Linked DNA regions of Homo sapiens. The protein of the gene in region 1 purifies or fractionates together with the protein of each later gene. This does not show direct contact. Each region holds a gene or a part of one and is shown in the gene's direction. Other genes may lie near its edges.

Evidence for each region. Proteins that work in one complex are often made in the same cells at the same time.
Region 2: the proteins of MIXL1 (region 1) and TBXT purify together in Homo sapiens (pull-down; one study listed by IntAct). This does not show direct contact.

The regions. Positions count from the first base shown.
Region 1 is NC_000001.11:226,222,461-226,226,463, forward strand, and holds the start of MIXL1 (homeobox protein MIXL1), read left to right. Parts: upstream 1-1,203; 5' UTR 1,204-1,221; coding exon 1,222-1,614; intron 1,615-3,022; coding exon of another isoform or gene 3,023-3,046; coding exon 3,047-3,352; 3' UTR 3,353-4,003. UniProt on the Homo sapiens protein: Transcription factor that play a central role in proper axial mesendoderm morphogenesis and endoderm formation.
Region 2 is NC_000006.12:166,165,052-166,169,246, reverse strand, and holds the start of TBXT (T-box transcription factor T), read left to right. Parts: upstream 1-1,395; 5' UTR 1,396-1,655; coding exon 1,656-1,861; intron 1,862-2,390; coding exon 2,391-2,655; intron 2,656-3,406; coding exon 3,407-3,541; intron 3,542-4,195. UniProt on the Homo sapiens protein: Involved in the transcriptional regulation of genes required for mesoderm formation and differentiation. Binds to a palindromic T site 5'-TTCACACCTAGGTGTGAA-3' DNA sequence and activates gene transcription when bound to such a site.

The DNA.
Region 1 (4,003 bases):
TGAAAGATCCTCCCAATAAAGATCTCCCTTTGAGTCGACCACAGTGAGTGATCCCGGTGAAATCAGCGCTCAGGTGCTGGGGGCAAAAAGACCTGGGCCTCTGTGTTCCTCTCTTGAGTTCTTGCACTGTGGTGGGGCAGTTCCCATAGTGGACCATGGGTTTCTCTTTCAATAAGGAGAGCTCAGTGACATCCAATTCGACAGACATTCACTAAGGGGCCTAGCACCGCGCCTCACGCAGAATAGGTGTACAAAGCAGACACTCAATAAACTCAGAAAGGGAGAGGTGGGTTCCTGCTTGCTAAGACTTTATATCTAGCAGATAGAGAAACCATAACCATAGCACAAAGTAGAGAAAATGGGAGCTTTCAGAGCCCCAAGGGGCAGAGGAAAGAATGATGATTCAGGGCGCGTGGAAACTTCATGAGGTGGCTTTCATCTCCTCCCATCCAATAGACGGGTCTTAAGCATTGTTGAGTATCTCCAGAAAGGCCAAACTGCGCCGTATCCTCTGCTAATGGGGCACGTTGCCAACCCCGCCCTACCTAGGGTATCTTTATTGGTGGGCCCATGGACATTCCAGCCAGACCCCCCCACTCCCCCCACCCATTTAATCAGGAGGAATGTGCTGCCCCCTGGATCCTTTATCTTCACCCCCCTCCCCGCTTGGATTCAGGATGTGTTAGGGAGGCTTGCAGAAGACAGGGGCCGGGCTGTTTGACCAACCTGGTACAGGGTCTAGCACATAGCAGGGGTGGTAAATAAATAGCTTTGATGAGGACAGACGGGACTAGGGCAAGGCTCAAGGCCCAGGCCATGTAAGGCACAGGCCAGGCAAGGTGCTTCCGCCGCTCTTAACGGGGATTTGACCCGGAGAAGAGAGTTCTGTCGCCTGCGGCCCGCGCACCCGGGCCCCTCCGGGCTGCCCCTCCCAGGCAAATAGTCCTTCGGGGATGTGGATTGCGCCGTCCGGGCGGGTGGGCGGGGAAGAACACGGAGGGGGCCGGGACCCAAGTTCACGCCTCCCTCCTGCATCCCGCAGCCGGCGGAAGCGATTATTCCCCGGCGTCTGGCGGGGCCGGGGGCGGGCTCGCACCCGGAGGAGACACGGGTCTCCCCGAGCCCACCTTTGATCGCACCGCCCCGCCTTCCCAGCCCCTGGCCCGGGAGGGTATAAGTGCGGCCCGCGCCCCTCCGAGCGGCGCGCTGGGTTCCGGAGCGATGGCCACAGCCGAGTCCCGTGCGCTCCAGTTTGCCGAGGGCGCCGCGTTTCCAGCGTACCGGGCCCCCCACGCCGGCGGGGCGCTCCTGCCGCCCCCGAGCCCTGCGGCAGCCCTGCTCCCTGCGCCGCCCGCGGGCCCCGGCCCAGCGACCTTTGCGGGCTTCCTCGGCCGGGACCCCGGGCCGGCCCCGCCGCCCCCCGCCAGCCTGGGCTCGCCTGCGCCCCCCAAAGGCGCGGCCGCCCCGTCGGCGTCGCAGCGCCGCAAGCGCACGTCTTTCAGCGCCGAACAGCTGCAGCTGCTGGAGCTCGTCTTCCGCCGGACCCGGTACCCCGACATCCACTTGCGCGAGCGCCTGGCCGCGCTCACCCTGCTCCCCGAGTCCAGGATCCAGGTGAGGGCCCGCTGCGTTCGCAAGTGCGCGCTGGAGCGGAGGCGCTGCGGACTCTAGGTCTGGACTGCGGGCTCCTGAGGCCACACCCGGGACGTTGCAGGCACGGTGCTTCCCCTGAGGCTCTGCGTACTAGACTGAAATAGGGGGTGATATCGGCACCTGCTGCATAGGGTGGTTGCGAGGCCTGTGTGAAATAATTTAGGCCTGCACTGAACGATTTCTCTCATTATTAAATATAATAAGGGCTCCTAGGAGGCTAGCCGGTCCCCTGAAATGGCCAGAAAGTAATTCCCAGCAGGAAGATAAGAAGTTTTACACTTTTTCTTTATCCGGGAAGAAGACACAGATGAGGGGCAGTTGGGGTTTTCCTCTGGCTTTGAGCGTGAGAATGGTAGCTGAAAACGGGGAAGGCTGGCTCGCCAAGTTACCCCCATGCTACTTTCTTGGCAAGTGTTACGTTTTGGGATTAGATTTGAAAGGATGTAGCGAATTGAGATAAAGCGAGAAGCACCTGGAGCTTGTTTTCAGTTTGAAAAATCTAGTGCAAGGTGTGTTTATTTTTATTTATTTAGTTTTTATTTGAGATGGAGTTTTAACTCTTGTTGCCCAGGCTGGAGTGCAATGGCGCGATCTGGGCTCACTGCAACCTCCGCCTCCCAGGTTCAAGTGATTCTCCTGCCTCAGCCTCCCGAGTAGCTGAGATTACAGGCGCCAGCCACCACGCCCAGCTAATTTTTGTATTTTTAGTAGAGACGGGGTTTTACCATGTTGGTCAGGCTGGTTTCGAACTCCTGACCTCAGGTGATCCACCCGCCTCAAAGTGCTGGGATTACAGGCGTGAGCCACCGCGCCCGGCCGTGTTTATTATCTAAAGTAATTTAGATCAGAATCTTAGAGTTGGTAAGGAGAAGCCTGCCTTTTTGTCTGTCTGTAGCCCCGTGGTCGGTGTCCAAGCGCAGTTTTAAGTAGCAGCCCTCATTTAAACACTGGGAGAGTGGACTTGTTTTCTCTGCACCCCTGGCGGTCATACAGCTGTCAGTCTCAACAGCTGGCATGAGCAAAATACCTCCTTGATTAGTTTGACAAGGGAGTGCAGACCTTAAAAAACAGGTTTTCTTCATAATTTAATGCAGTTTTTTTCTAAGAATTCTAAGTGCTTCCATTTTTGTGACCCCATTTTTCATGAAAATTTCTCTAACTAAAGAGTAGATAGAACTAGGCATTATTCCAATGTTTCCATCTGGGAATGGGGAGGCAAGGAAAGCCAGGTGTTCTGAACTTCTAATCGTCAACCCAAGTGCTTTCTGAAGACAAGGCTCTGGAGAGGAAGCCAGGGGATGTTAAACTGGAACTTACCAGTATGAACTGTGAACATAATGTTAGCATAAAAAACTCCAACCAAAAGCAGCTTTTATTTTCTCCCCTCTTCCAGGTATGGTTCCAGAACAGGCGTGCCAAGTCTCGGCGTCAGAGTGGGAAATCCTTCCAACCTTTGGCTAGGCCGGAGATTATCCTCAACCACTGTGCTCCTGGAACTGAAACGAAATGTCTGAAGCCCCAGCTGCCTCTTGAGGTAGATGTGAACTGCCTGCCCGAACCAAACGGGGTTGGAGGGGGCATCTCTGACTCTAGCTCCCAAGGTCAGAATTTTGAAACCTGTTCCCCTCTCTCTGAAGACATTGGTTCAAAGCTGGACTCATGGGAGGAACACATCTTTTCTGCCTTTGGTAACTTTTGAGGATTCTGGGAGAATTCGGGATAAGCTCTGAGGAGCCATGACTGACAGCCTGGGAGAGACACATCAGCATACTGTCCTTTCTGACTTCCATGCTAAGGACATGTCCTTGTTAACCTTGATGATGGTTTTGACAGCACCTCTCACATTTGAAGGTACCCCGCCACTTTGTCAATGACGTTTTAAGCCCACACTCCCACCCCAGAGTTCCCGCATTCGTTTTTACCTGTGTTCTCTCCAAGCCTGCACATTCCATTGGTCTGCATCCCTATGCCTTCTTGCCAGGCCTGTTTTTAGTTTTTGGACTGGTTGTTCAGAACTCATTATTTTCTTCACAAGAATGCCTCAGCTTGACTCAGTTTCCCCTTGTGTTTGACAGCTGCCATTTTCTCCTGGTCCCTCCAAGGCTTATAATCTTAAAGTCACTCTACCCCGTCTCTTCAACCCTCATCCTAGGTTTATTACTTTTTAAAATTGGGCCTGTCATCTTCACGTTCAATCATAGCTCCAATGACTCTGCATGCAGATTATTTCGACAGCCCCCTTGCCTCTAGCTTCTCAACTACTTAAAAAAAATTACCCTCTGTGGGCCAGGTGCAGTGGCTCACTCCTGCAATCTCAGCACTTTGGGAGGCCGAGTGGGTGGATCACCTG
Region 2 (4,195 bases), on another chromosome or scaffold:
GGGCAGGGGAGACTTAGCGCGGGGCGCAGATACCATGTCCGCGGGAAAGCCCCCTTGCTAGGGCGCAAGACTCCTCTGAACTCGCTGCCCCACCCGATGCGCAGGCTTTCTCTAGAGGGGTTGGGGCTGGGGTGCCCGCTCAGGAGACCGGGAAACAGAGGCTGCTACCCGAGGCAGGCCCTCGTCCAGCGAATGGGCGAGGTGTGCAGAAGCGCAAAGCCAGGCCTTGGAAGGGGGAGCTTCTGCCTCCTTCCCCCTTCCTGGGCTCCCGTTTTAGGAGGAATGTTACTGTTTAAAGAGACCCCACTGAACTATTTCCTGCTCATTGTCACCTCTCCTTCGCTCTCCTCGCGTAAGTTCTCACCGAAAGGTAATAAAACAACCGCTGCCGACACCGCTTGGCGCTGGGCCGGGCGGGGAAAGCGCCCCGAGTCCCACTAGTCCGGACCACCCCGCCAGCCCCGACCTTCTCCCACCTTCCGTGAAAGCAATGACACAGCAGAAACCACGCACACGCCTGGCACACTCGATGCGCGCGCTGACCTCGGCAACAAGTCCTGTTTTTATAAGAGAGCGAGGAGGACACTTCTCAGAAGGGGTTGTTTTGCTTTTGCTTATTTCCGTCCATTTCCCTCTCTGCGCGCGGACCTTCCTTTTCCAGATGGTGAGAGCCGCGGGGACACCCGACGCCGGGGCAGGCTGATCCACGATCCTGGGTGTGCGTAACGCCGCCTGGGGCTCCGTGGGCGAGGGACGTGTGGGGACAGGTGCACCGGAAACTGCCAGACTGGAGAGTTGAGGCATCGGAGGCGCGAGAACAGCACTACTACTGCGGCGAGACGAGCGCGGCGCATCCCAAAGCCCGGCCAAATGCGCTCGTCCCTGGGAGGGGAGGGAGGCGCGCCTGGAGCGGGGACAGGTGAGGCCGCGCGAACGTTCCAGCCTGGCGCGGCTGCGGGATCCGGGCGCGCTGGGAAAGCGAGGAGGACCCCGCGCGGGAATCAGGGAGCATCGCAGGCTGCCGGGCAGCCCCTCGCGGAAGTGCGGGCTGGGGCGGGCTGGGGCGGGCTGGGGCAGGCCGGGGCGTCCAGCTTACCTTCCTCCGGGGCTTGCCCCGCCGCTTTGATGGAGGTGCAAACATTTGGAGAAGGGCGGGGGTGTAGGGGCTGGGCCGGGGCTCGCAGGGCTGGGGCCCCGGATTTACATGAAACAGGCGTGCGGGAGCCCATTGTTGGCCCCCGGCCTCCCAGACCCGCCCGGCTGGGTCTGATATGGCCGCTCTCGGCCAATGGGAGGCTGCCCGGCACTTCAAAGCGTGCGCGGCCCAATCCGCCGAGCACCCCAGCGCTGCCGCCGCGGCTCTATTTATGGGGAGGGCACTGAATTTCGGTCCCCAGAGACCTACACTAGTAGAGCCTTGGGGAGTTCAAGTGGAATAACTTCTCCCCACCCCTCTGCCCCCGTCCCCTCCCCCCAAGTCTTGGTCCGCGCCCTCCTCCCGGGTCTGTGCCGGGACCCGGGACCCGGGAGCCGTCGCAGGTCTCGGTCCAAGGGGCCCCTTTTCTCGGAAGGGCGGCGGCCAAGAGCAGGGAAGGTGGATCTCAGGTAGCGAGTCTGGGCTTCGGGGACGGCGGGGAGGGGAGCCGGACGGGAGGATGAGCTCCCCTGGCACCGAGAGCGCGGGAAAGAGCCTGCAGTACCGAGTGGACCACCTGCTGAGCGCCGTGGAGAATGAGCTGCAGGCGGGCAGCGAGAAGGGCGACCCCACAGAGCGCGAACTGCGCGTGGGCCTGGAGGAGAGCGAGCTGTGGCTGCGCTTCAAGGAGCTCACCAATGAGATGATCGTGACCAAGAACGGCAGGTGGGTGCGCGTCCGGAGCCCGCGCGCGCCGCGCTCTCCAGCGCCTGGGCAGCCTGGGGGACCTGGCAAGTTCCCGGAGGTCGAACCCTTTTTCTCCTGGAGGAGGGCTTTGTGTTTGTTCCCGCTCTGGTTAACTCCCTCGAGTGCATTTCTACAAGCCCCTCTTCTGGGGCTTTCTCCGCGGAAGCTTGGGGAGGAGGAACGCGCACTTCGGTGTCCCGACCTCGGAGGCATCCCGGGACCCGCGAGGCGCGCCCTGGTCCCCGCCTGTCCCCGCGGGATGTGGCCTCCTGCACTGAAACCCTTCGCCAGGTCCTCTCCTCCCCTCCCTCCCGAGGCCGTGGAGATGGTGAGGAGGCCACCTGGACCTGGCAGGGCTCGGGGAAGGGGGAGCTTGGGAGTCACCCTCGGACGTTCCCCAGGGGGCTCCTCTGTGCCCCGAAATAACTGAGGCCTCTGTGCCCAGCTTCTGCCTCCGGCCTACCTGGTCAGTGTCGGGGTCCTCCTGCGCCCGCCCCGTGTTTTCCAGGAGGATGTTTCCGGTGCTGAAGGTGAACGTGTCTGGCCTGGACCCCAACGCCATGTACTCCTTCCTGCTGGACTTCGTGGCGGCGGACAACCACCGCTGGAAGTACGTGAACGGGGAATGGGTGCCGGGGGGCAAGCCGGAGCCGCAGGCGCCCAGCTGCGTCTACATCCACCCCGACTCGCCCAACTTCGGGGCCCACTGGATGAAGGCTCCCGTCTCCTTCAGCAAAGTCAAGCTCACCAACAAGCTCAACGGAGGGGGCCAGGTAGGTGTGAGGAGCCCGCCAGGTCTGGGACCAGCGAGGAGGGGGCCGCGCTGCGCCTTCTGCACGGGGGTTGTGGGAAGGGACGCTGCTTGAACGGGAGGCGACGTCTGCCCTGGAGAAACTGCCACAGCCTTCTCTAATAAGGCCTTTAGCGCTGTTTATACTAAGCTGATAACATCCACGCCTGGCGAACGGGGAGCGGGAGCACTCCCCTTTGAAGGACTGGAGCTTTTGGGGAACTTCCGTTGTCTAGCCCTAAACTCTCCTGGGGGTGGAAAAGATATCAGCCTTGATGGCAAAGTCGCATTTAAATTTAAACATGCGCCACAGTACTTACTGCGTGGAGTCGGAACAAACTTGTAAAGTCGTGCTTTTCTAAAGAACATTCTTTAGTCGGGGATTGTTCCTGGAAGACCCCAGGTTAGGCAAGTTGCAAACAAGCTCAGTCTTTTAAAAATGACCATAGCCTTCCTGAAAGCCTTAGTACTTTATTCCACCAGGTGAAAGGATTTTGTGATGAGCATTCATTGCTTTTAATGGTGTGTAGCATCTCACATCCCTTTTCCAAACAAGCTGTGGGAATAGCACATATAAACCGCGGAGAAGCCTCCCCTGGTGGAACCCCACTTCCCTCAACAGCAGAGACACTTTCTTGGGATCCAGAGGACTTTCTGCATCCTGGAGAAATGGATGTTTTGCTGTTTTAACGCAGGCCTTTCAGTGCCACCAATCCTGTATCTGTCTCCCTCAGATCATGCTGAACTCCTTGCATAAGTATGAGCCTCGAATCCACATAGTGAGAGTTGGGGGTCCACAGCGCATGATCACCAGCCACTGCTTCCCTGAGACCCAGTTCATAGCGGTGACTGCTTATCAGAACGAGGAGGTGAGAAGGACAGAGGCGGATCGCTTTCCCGGTGTGCTGCGGTGTGGTGTGCTGCTCCGTGGAGATTCTGGAGGAGCGGGGAGACGCGCTAACCCGCACTGAGAGGAAGGCTTCCTGCCCTTTCAAATAATATTCCGGAACTTGAAATGGAAGCACAGGAGAGAACTGTTTAAATTAAGTCCCCATTCAAACATTTTCCCCTTGAATTCTCCATACAAGTGTTTAAAACTAGAAACAACTTCTCAATGCTCAAAATGAAAAGATCCAAAAAGCATTCAGGTTAAATGGTGTGAGAATTTCTTGAGAACAAGACTTGAGTGAGAGAGGGGCATGTCCTTCCTTGGAAATCTTCCCCAAAGGGTGGGGGGGCAACCCCTCAAATCTCTGCAGTGTGAAGACTCAACTAGATACAAGCTACTGCATAGGTGCCTGTAAATCTATGCCTAAGCCCAACCCCAAAGTACTGCAAATTCGACATTAGTTGGATACCTTGTTGGTGTTGACGTTGACCGAAAACTAGAACTTCCAGGTCTCTATTTCCTAAGCAGCCCCAGACTGTGTTTTCAGCCATTTCTGATTTATACACATGGAACATTGTTAGTAGTAGGTTAAATTTATTGTGAATCCCACTCAGAACATTGACATTGAAAATTT